2 linked regions of the Homo sapiens genome follow. The protein of the gene in region 2 interacts with the protein of the main gene of each other region in a pairwise test. Each region holds a gene or a part of one and is shown on either strand. Other genes may lie near its edges.

What was found.
Region 1: the proteins of C3orf52 (region 2) and CNMD interact in binary tests that used the Homo sapiens proteins (3 or more experiments, as listed by UniProt).

What each region holds. Positions count from the first base shown.
Region 1 is NC_000013.11:52,712,271-52,715,928, reverse strand, and holds part of CNMD (leukocyte cell-derived chemotaxin 1 isoform 1 precursor), read left to right. Parts: intron 1-3,059; coding exon 3,060-3,213; intron 3,214-3,658. UniProt on the Homo sapiens protein: Bifunctional growth regulator that stimulates the growth of cultured chondrocytes in the presence of basic fibroblast growth factor (FGF) but inhibits the growth of cultured vascular endothelial cells.
Region 2 is NC_000003.12:112,099,855-112,103,512, reverse strand, and holds part of C3orf52 (TPA-induced transmembrane protein), read right to left. Parts: intron 676-3,658; coding exon 548-675; intron 1-547. UniProt on the Homo sapiens protein: Has a role in LIPH-mediated synthesis of 2-acyl lysophosphatidic acid (LPA). LPA is a bioactive lipid mediator involved in different biological processes, and necessary to promote hair formation and growth.

The sequences.
Region 1 (3,658 bases), on a different chromosome or scaffold from region 2:
GTGTGGTGATTCCTCAAGGATCTAGAACCAGAAATATCATTTGACCCAGCAATCCCATCACTGGGTATATACCTAAAGGATTATAAATCATTCTACTATAAAGACACATGCATATGTATGCTTATTGCAGCACTATTCACAATAGCAAAGACTTGGAACCAACCCAAATGCCCATCAATGATAGACTGGATAAAGAAAATGTGGCACATGTACACCATAGAATACTATGCAGCCATAAAAATGATGAGTTCATGTCCTTTGCAGGGACACGGATGAAGCTGGAAACCATCATTCTCAGCAAAGTAACACAGGAACAGAAAACCAGACACTGCATGTTCTCACTCACAAGTAGGAGCTGAACAATGAGAACACATGGACACAGGGAGGGGAACATCACACACCGGGGCCTGTCAGGGAGTGGGAGTGCTAGGGGAAGAATAGCATTAAGAGAAATATCTAATGTAGATGACGAGTTGATGCATGCAGCAAACCACCATGGCATGTGTATACCTATGTAACAAACCTGCACATTCTGCACATGTATCCCAGAATTTAAAGTATAATTTAAAAAAATTAAAACAGTTGAACTCATGGAGATAGAGAATAGAAGGATGATTACCAGAGGCTGGAACGGTTTGGGGGAAGGGAGGATGGTAATGGGTACAAAAATTAGTTATAAAGAATAAAAAATAGAAAAACTAAATAAGACCTAGTATTTGCTAGCACAGCAGGGAGACTGTAGTAAAAAACAATTATACATTTTTAAAAAAACTAACAGTATAACTGGATTGTTTGAAACAAAGAATAAATGCTTGCAGTAATTACCCTGATGTGGTAATTATGCATTGCATGCTGGTATCAAAATATCTTAGGTAACCCATAAGTATATACCTACTATAGATCCACAAAAATTAAAAATAAAAAAAGAAAATAGGTGTAAGAATCTTGACTAAAATATTAGTAAAAGGAGTATAGCCATATGTTGAATAAGTAACATGTCATGACAAGGTAAGGTTTATTTCAGGGATGTACAAATGGTTCAATACTGGGACATCTTAGGGAAAAAAAGTATAGATAATAAAATTACCTACAATTGCATAATCCACAAAAAGCTAATGCTAATGTTTTGGTGAATTTTCTCCGTGTGTGTGTGTGTGTGATAGTCTTTCTATAAGGGAAATTATCCTGTTGTACATGCTTATTATTGTCATAACTTTAGTTCTTCTAAAATGTAGATTATAATGGACATATGCTTTATCATATGATTATAATTTTAAAAGTCTTTTATTCTTAAACACTTCAGGTATCTTCAATTTTTCATTATTTCAAATAATAATTAAAAATAACTATTTTTAAATACCATTATTTACCATGGTAAATAAATTCGCCGTGATGGTGAATGCTTTTATATTTAAATCTTTGTCTGCATCTGATTCTTAGGCCATAGAGGTAGATTATTTGTCCTGTGTTTTAGTTGTTTATGTCATGCATGATGGATCCTCTAGTGGACAAAAACAAATTCAGACAATACATTTGTGTGAATTAGGAATATGTTTGGCTGTCAGTAACAGAAAACTACCCTTAGAGTAACTTACACAAATCGGGATCTGTTTTTCTCCACAGTAAGCAATGTGGAGGCAGGTGGCTGCAGGCATTGGCTCGGTGGCCAGCATTTCTGTGATTTTTTAAAATCTTGCCTTTCAGCTCCAATCATGGTTGCCACTGCTCAACCTCTTCCTGACTTCCTTAGTTGGCATTCAAGTAAAAATGTCAGGAAGAAAGACATTGAGCAATGCCAACCACGACTTCCCTTTAATCAGGAAAAGCAGAAGGCCTCCCAAGCCCTCAGCATACTTTGGCCTGGATCTCACTGGCTACCACTGGGTCACCCGGGCACCCTGGACTGCAGGAGAACTAGAGAAAGCAAGTGTCTCTCCTGGGGCTGGGCTCATTGCTGCTTCCAATAAAAGAAGGACTATGTTACAAGGCAGGTGGGGGAGGAAGGAGATTGGGTAGGCAACCAAAAGTACATGCCTCAAGATTTATTTAACATTCTTAGCATGGAGGATGCATCTATATGCATTATCCCAATCACCCCACTCTTCCCCACACACTTTAGACTAAGATGGGGTAGATTTATGTACCACTTGCTTTCATAAATTTTTCATCAGTTTTGTATAACTTTAAAAAGCTACAGTACTCAAAGAGCATTCATTTCCTGGATGGAGCCATTTAATTTAAGGTAAATAACTGGATTACCTGACTGTTAGCTTCCTCCAATAACTTTAAGTTGTTTTAATGCAGCCATAAGCCTGAGGGAGAAAGCATAAATGAAGTACTGCTTTTAGCTAAAAATTAGGAGAAAACATTTTAATTTCTCCAAGCTATTGCAGACTAATAAGTACACGAAAGGAACAACCTGGCAGGATAAATTTGTCTCCTGGGTTATCAAACCATTCTCAGCATCTCACTGTGGAAGAAAATCCAGGGTTTAACTTTGAAATCTCAGTGGTGTGCTTGATGTGAGGAACATCTGAAATATGTGTTGTTATAGCTGGGAAGTGGAGAAATGGTTTATGTTAAATAATACTTTGAACTGAAGACATTAAAGAACCAATCACTTGCTTTTTCCATTGTTGTTCAGAAGCTGCAGAACAAAACCCCACAAGATTTTCACTTCAAATGAAGGGTTCCTCTATCCTTTGTAGGATTCCAGGGTTCGTTCAATTGCTTTTCCTCAAAAACATCTTTGATCAAAAACATCAGATTAACCTAAATCTCAAAGTTGGTATCAAGTAATTTTCACTTCAACTCAGGGCACTTATATTCACATGGTACAGCTATCCAGAGGCAGGGCAACAGGAGGAGGCGTGCTGAATATTGTGAAAAGAGCTACAAAGAGAAGAGATTAGAACCTTAAAGTGCACACATGTACACACGCATGCTCGGAATTCTCATTAATTTTTTATAAGGCAAAATAACCTTTTAGCAACACATGACTCTTAATACAATTTGTTTCACTGTCCTCTTTGCTCAAATGCAATCGTTTTTACTTTCAGGAAGGCAAGATCATGCCAGTCAAATATGAAGAAAATTCTCTTATCTGGGTGGCTGTAGATCAGCCTGTGAAGGACAACAGCTTCTTGAGTTCTAAGGTGTTAGAACTCTGCGGTGACCTTCCTATTTTCTGGCTTAAACCAACCTATCCAAAAGGTAACATTTTAAATTATCTTAAGCTGTTTACAACTTTCCCTGTTCATGCATGTGAGGTTCCTCCAACCCCCTCCACAGGCCTGAGCATGTTAACAAGGAGGATAAATCAGGATGCATGTCGCAGTGTCTCAGTAATTAGCATGAGAGATGAAAGAGCAGGAAAATGACAGCCCGTGACTATTGAAGGGAAGGGAAGGAGCAGTAGGGTTAACAGGAGGCAGATCAGGAAGACAATGCCATGGCATTACCTGCAGCTTTGGTTTATGACACTCCCACTTCTTTCCACTCTGCCCCTTTATCTCAGTTGTTTGCACCTTCCAATTTTACATTTTTTTTATTTCTAAGGCATAGAATCAAGGGACTAAGAAACTGTCATACCGCCGAGTCTTTATTGTGTTCAAACCTAGAATTATGGGACAGCCAAAAGCTGCTATGGGTATTGGCT
Region 2 (3,658 bases):
AATACTATAGGTTGAATTAAATGTAGGACCTAAGGGAGTAAAAAGAACAGTGTCCTCCAGCATTTATGCAGCTGGAGGCCAGGAATCTTCCCTCTGGCTTTGCACTACAGTAAAGATATTTACTTATTTTTTTAACAAAGTTTTATTTTAGGCTCAGGAGAATACATGTGCATGTTTCTTCTATAGGTAAACTCGTGTCATGGCGGTTTGTTGTACAGATTATTTTGTCACCCAGGTACTAAGCCTAGTACCCAATAGTTACTTTTTTTCCTGCTCCTCTCCCTCTTCCCACCCTCCGCCCTTAAGTAGGCCCCAGTGTCTGTTCCTCTCTTCGTGTCCATGTGTTCTCATCATTTAGCTCCCACTTGTAAGTGAGAACATGTGGTATTTGGTCATAAAATATATTTATAAGCATCATTTTCTGCTAAAATCCAGACAAAGAATCCAAAATTGAAGCTACTTACTCTATAGCTCTATGCCAATTATTCTAGCAAAATTCATATTCTAATGTCAAGAACTCCTTAGGCAATATATAAGATGGAATTACCCTTTCGGTGAGCAGGTGAGGCAATTCCTCTTCAGCAACACACTCCTCTGGAATCTTCAGCATGATGAAGAATGTTTTGTTTGATGATAATTCAAGTATTTCATTTTCATCTTCATCAACATAAGTTACTAAAGAAAGTAGGGGAGGTGGAAATGAAAAACAAAAGTAAACACCTGCATATAATAATAAACTTATTTATTCCATTGACTGCCATACTTAAACATAACTATGAGCATCAAGGGTAAAGGCTGAACACAGCAAGCAAGTGTAAGCAGAAATGCTTTCTCCACTCAGCAAAATTGAGTAAAATACAGGGGTTTGCCTCTATCAAAATAAAAAGTTTGTTTTATGGCAAAGGGGTCTCAGATTCCACTGAATACAGACTGGGGAAAGGGCCCAAGGGAGTAGGAAGAATATGAACTTCCTTATTAGACTAAACCTGCAGCTTAGCTAGGTACACAGGTGTCAAGGCAGGTACTGGGAGACGGTGGGGGTGGCTAAACTACACTCAGAGCCCCAGGGTGTGCAGGAATTGTTCAGGTCAATGAATTAGCATGTATTAGGGTCAAGGTATATTTATAGACTCAGATTCCGAAATCATTTACATTTTATAAATGGGAAAACAGACCCAGAGGGTTGACGAGTTTGCCTAAAACAATGAGTGATGAAGGACAGGAAGTGGGAGCAAGTAACTGCATTGACTCACCTCCCAATTCTGTGCTGGCAAAGACCACCATGAAGAAGTGACATCATCGACTCAAACAACAGAGGTGACTAGAAAATGAGCATGCGAGTCCATGTCTTGAAGTCTCCCCAGGAAGACAGAGGATGAGCATGAAGTCATCACTCTAGACTATGTCTCACAGGACAGGTATGTTGACATGCTCTGCTTGCAGAAGGGAAGCTAAACTATATTCAGAGCCCCAGGGTGTGCAGGAATTACATTCCTGGGACAATTAGTTATGTATTGCTGCTTGTGTTTAATGACTGCCATCTAATTGATTTTTAAGTAGTTGGAACTAAAGGAAAATCACACAAAGTGAGGAGCCAGGCGCCAGAAGCTAGCACTACTGTGCTAATTATGCTCCCCTGGCTCCACAACAGCCTCACCAGCTGGTCCCACACAGGAGACTACCTCTCTGGCCCTGAGAAAGGCGTAGGTGGGAGGAACCAGGTGCTTATATTGCCATAGACTTTAAGACCATAGTGGAATAAATTCAGTGTTTGAGATGGAAGGACAGGTAAAAAGGAGGAAGATTCCTGGTATTCCGGTTACTTATTCTGTGATGACATCTGGAAATACGAGGCATTACGAGCAAGGAATGTGCAGAAAAGAGTTAATATAGCAGGCCTGAGATTGCTAGCATAAGAAAGGCCTCCTCAAAATTGGTCCTGGCTGGTGTCTGAGAACCTGGATTTTCCCCTGATGAGAGGGGCTCACTGTGCCTCAACTGTTTGTACAATGTGGCTAACATCTCCTTTCCTTCTGGGAGTCTGGATTTTTAGTGCATAGTAGGCAGAGGCTACGTATATGACCAAGCCCCAGTGAAAACCCCGGGTACTGAATCTCCAATAAGCTTCCCTAGTAGATGAGATCTCACATGTGTTGTCACAGCCTATCGCTGGAGGAATTAAACAAGTCTGGTGCAACTCCACTGAGAGAGGACACTTGAAAGCTTGCTCCTGGTTTTCTCTGGATTTTGCTGTAATTAATCATTTGATGTAATGTATCCTTTTGCTGTAATAGATCATAGTGATCAGTAGGACTGCATGCTGAGTCCTGTGTATCCTCCTAGCAAATTGTTGAATCTAGGAGTAATCTTGGGGACCCCCAAACGTAGGGAATTATCCCTGCGTCCTTAATTGTTATAAGTCATGACATTATGTTGTATGATTTAAAAAAAAAGTTACGCCTTCATAGCAAAAAATTTTGCAAAGTGCAGGAAATTGTAACAAAGCAAAGAAAAAAATACGAATAATCTTGCAATCAAGAGGGTTTTTTCCTCCTATACTTGATATTATATATTTAAGGTCCTAACAAATAGGTAATTTATATCCTGCTTTTTGTTGTTTGCTGCCATTATTGCTTACTTATCCTGATTGTTCTGTTGTAAACATATCAAAAGCCATTTCCCATGTGCTTAAAATTCCTTGCAAAGATTATTTCAATGGCTTCATAATGTTCATAATAGGCTCACCTATTTTCTTAAATATGACATTTATCATTTTTAGCTTTCTACTTCTATAAATAATATTTCAATGGGTATCTTTGAGCTCTATACCCACCATGTAGATTTCCATAATAGATATCAATGCCTCAGAAAACAATAGGGGATGCCAAGAGGATAGATACAAGGTTCAAATAACTGCTAAACTCAAGGACACTGAGAAGAGATGCCAAGTGTGAAAACAGGCCTCCCATAATAGCTCTGACACATATTTAATGTGTATCATTCAAATCATGAATCTGTACCAAGACCTATCTAAATAGTTGTGTGTGTCAAAATAATAACAATAGTAACAACGACAGGCTTACTCAGTCAGGAGAGTTTTTATGTCACTAATGAGATAATCTGGGCTATACTTATTCGTGTAGAAAAAACATATTTTTAAAAATCACAAAAACATGTGTTGTATGTTGAAGGAACATGAAAACAGTTCTTTGGCTAGAATATAAGAAATTAAGCTAGAGAGAGAGCCCTTAAACGCCAGATACCTTCAAGGGGTAATGGAGTGTTGTTAAACATCGCCCACGAAGAAAGTAGAGGCTGGTGTTTAATGGAGGTTAATCGGGTGGTCATGGATGGGATAAATGAAACGAGGAGAGATGAGGCAGAGAGGCCAACAGGCACAAGTTTGGAACAGACTGATTTGACTGACAGCAGAAGGAACAAAAAGAAAAAATTAATGAGAAAGCCCAGGATAGTAGAAACAGAGCTGGCTTTAAAGGCAGCCAGACTCAGTCTGAACTCCTGTTGGCTATTTGTTAGCCAGGTGACCTTGAGCAAGTCACTTAAATCTCTGAAGCTACTTCTCCAACAGAAATATCAACACCTACAATGTAGGTGATAGTAAAGATGAAAACCAACATGCATAAAGTATCCTGCATGG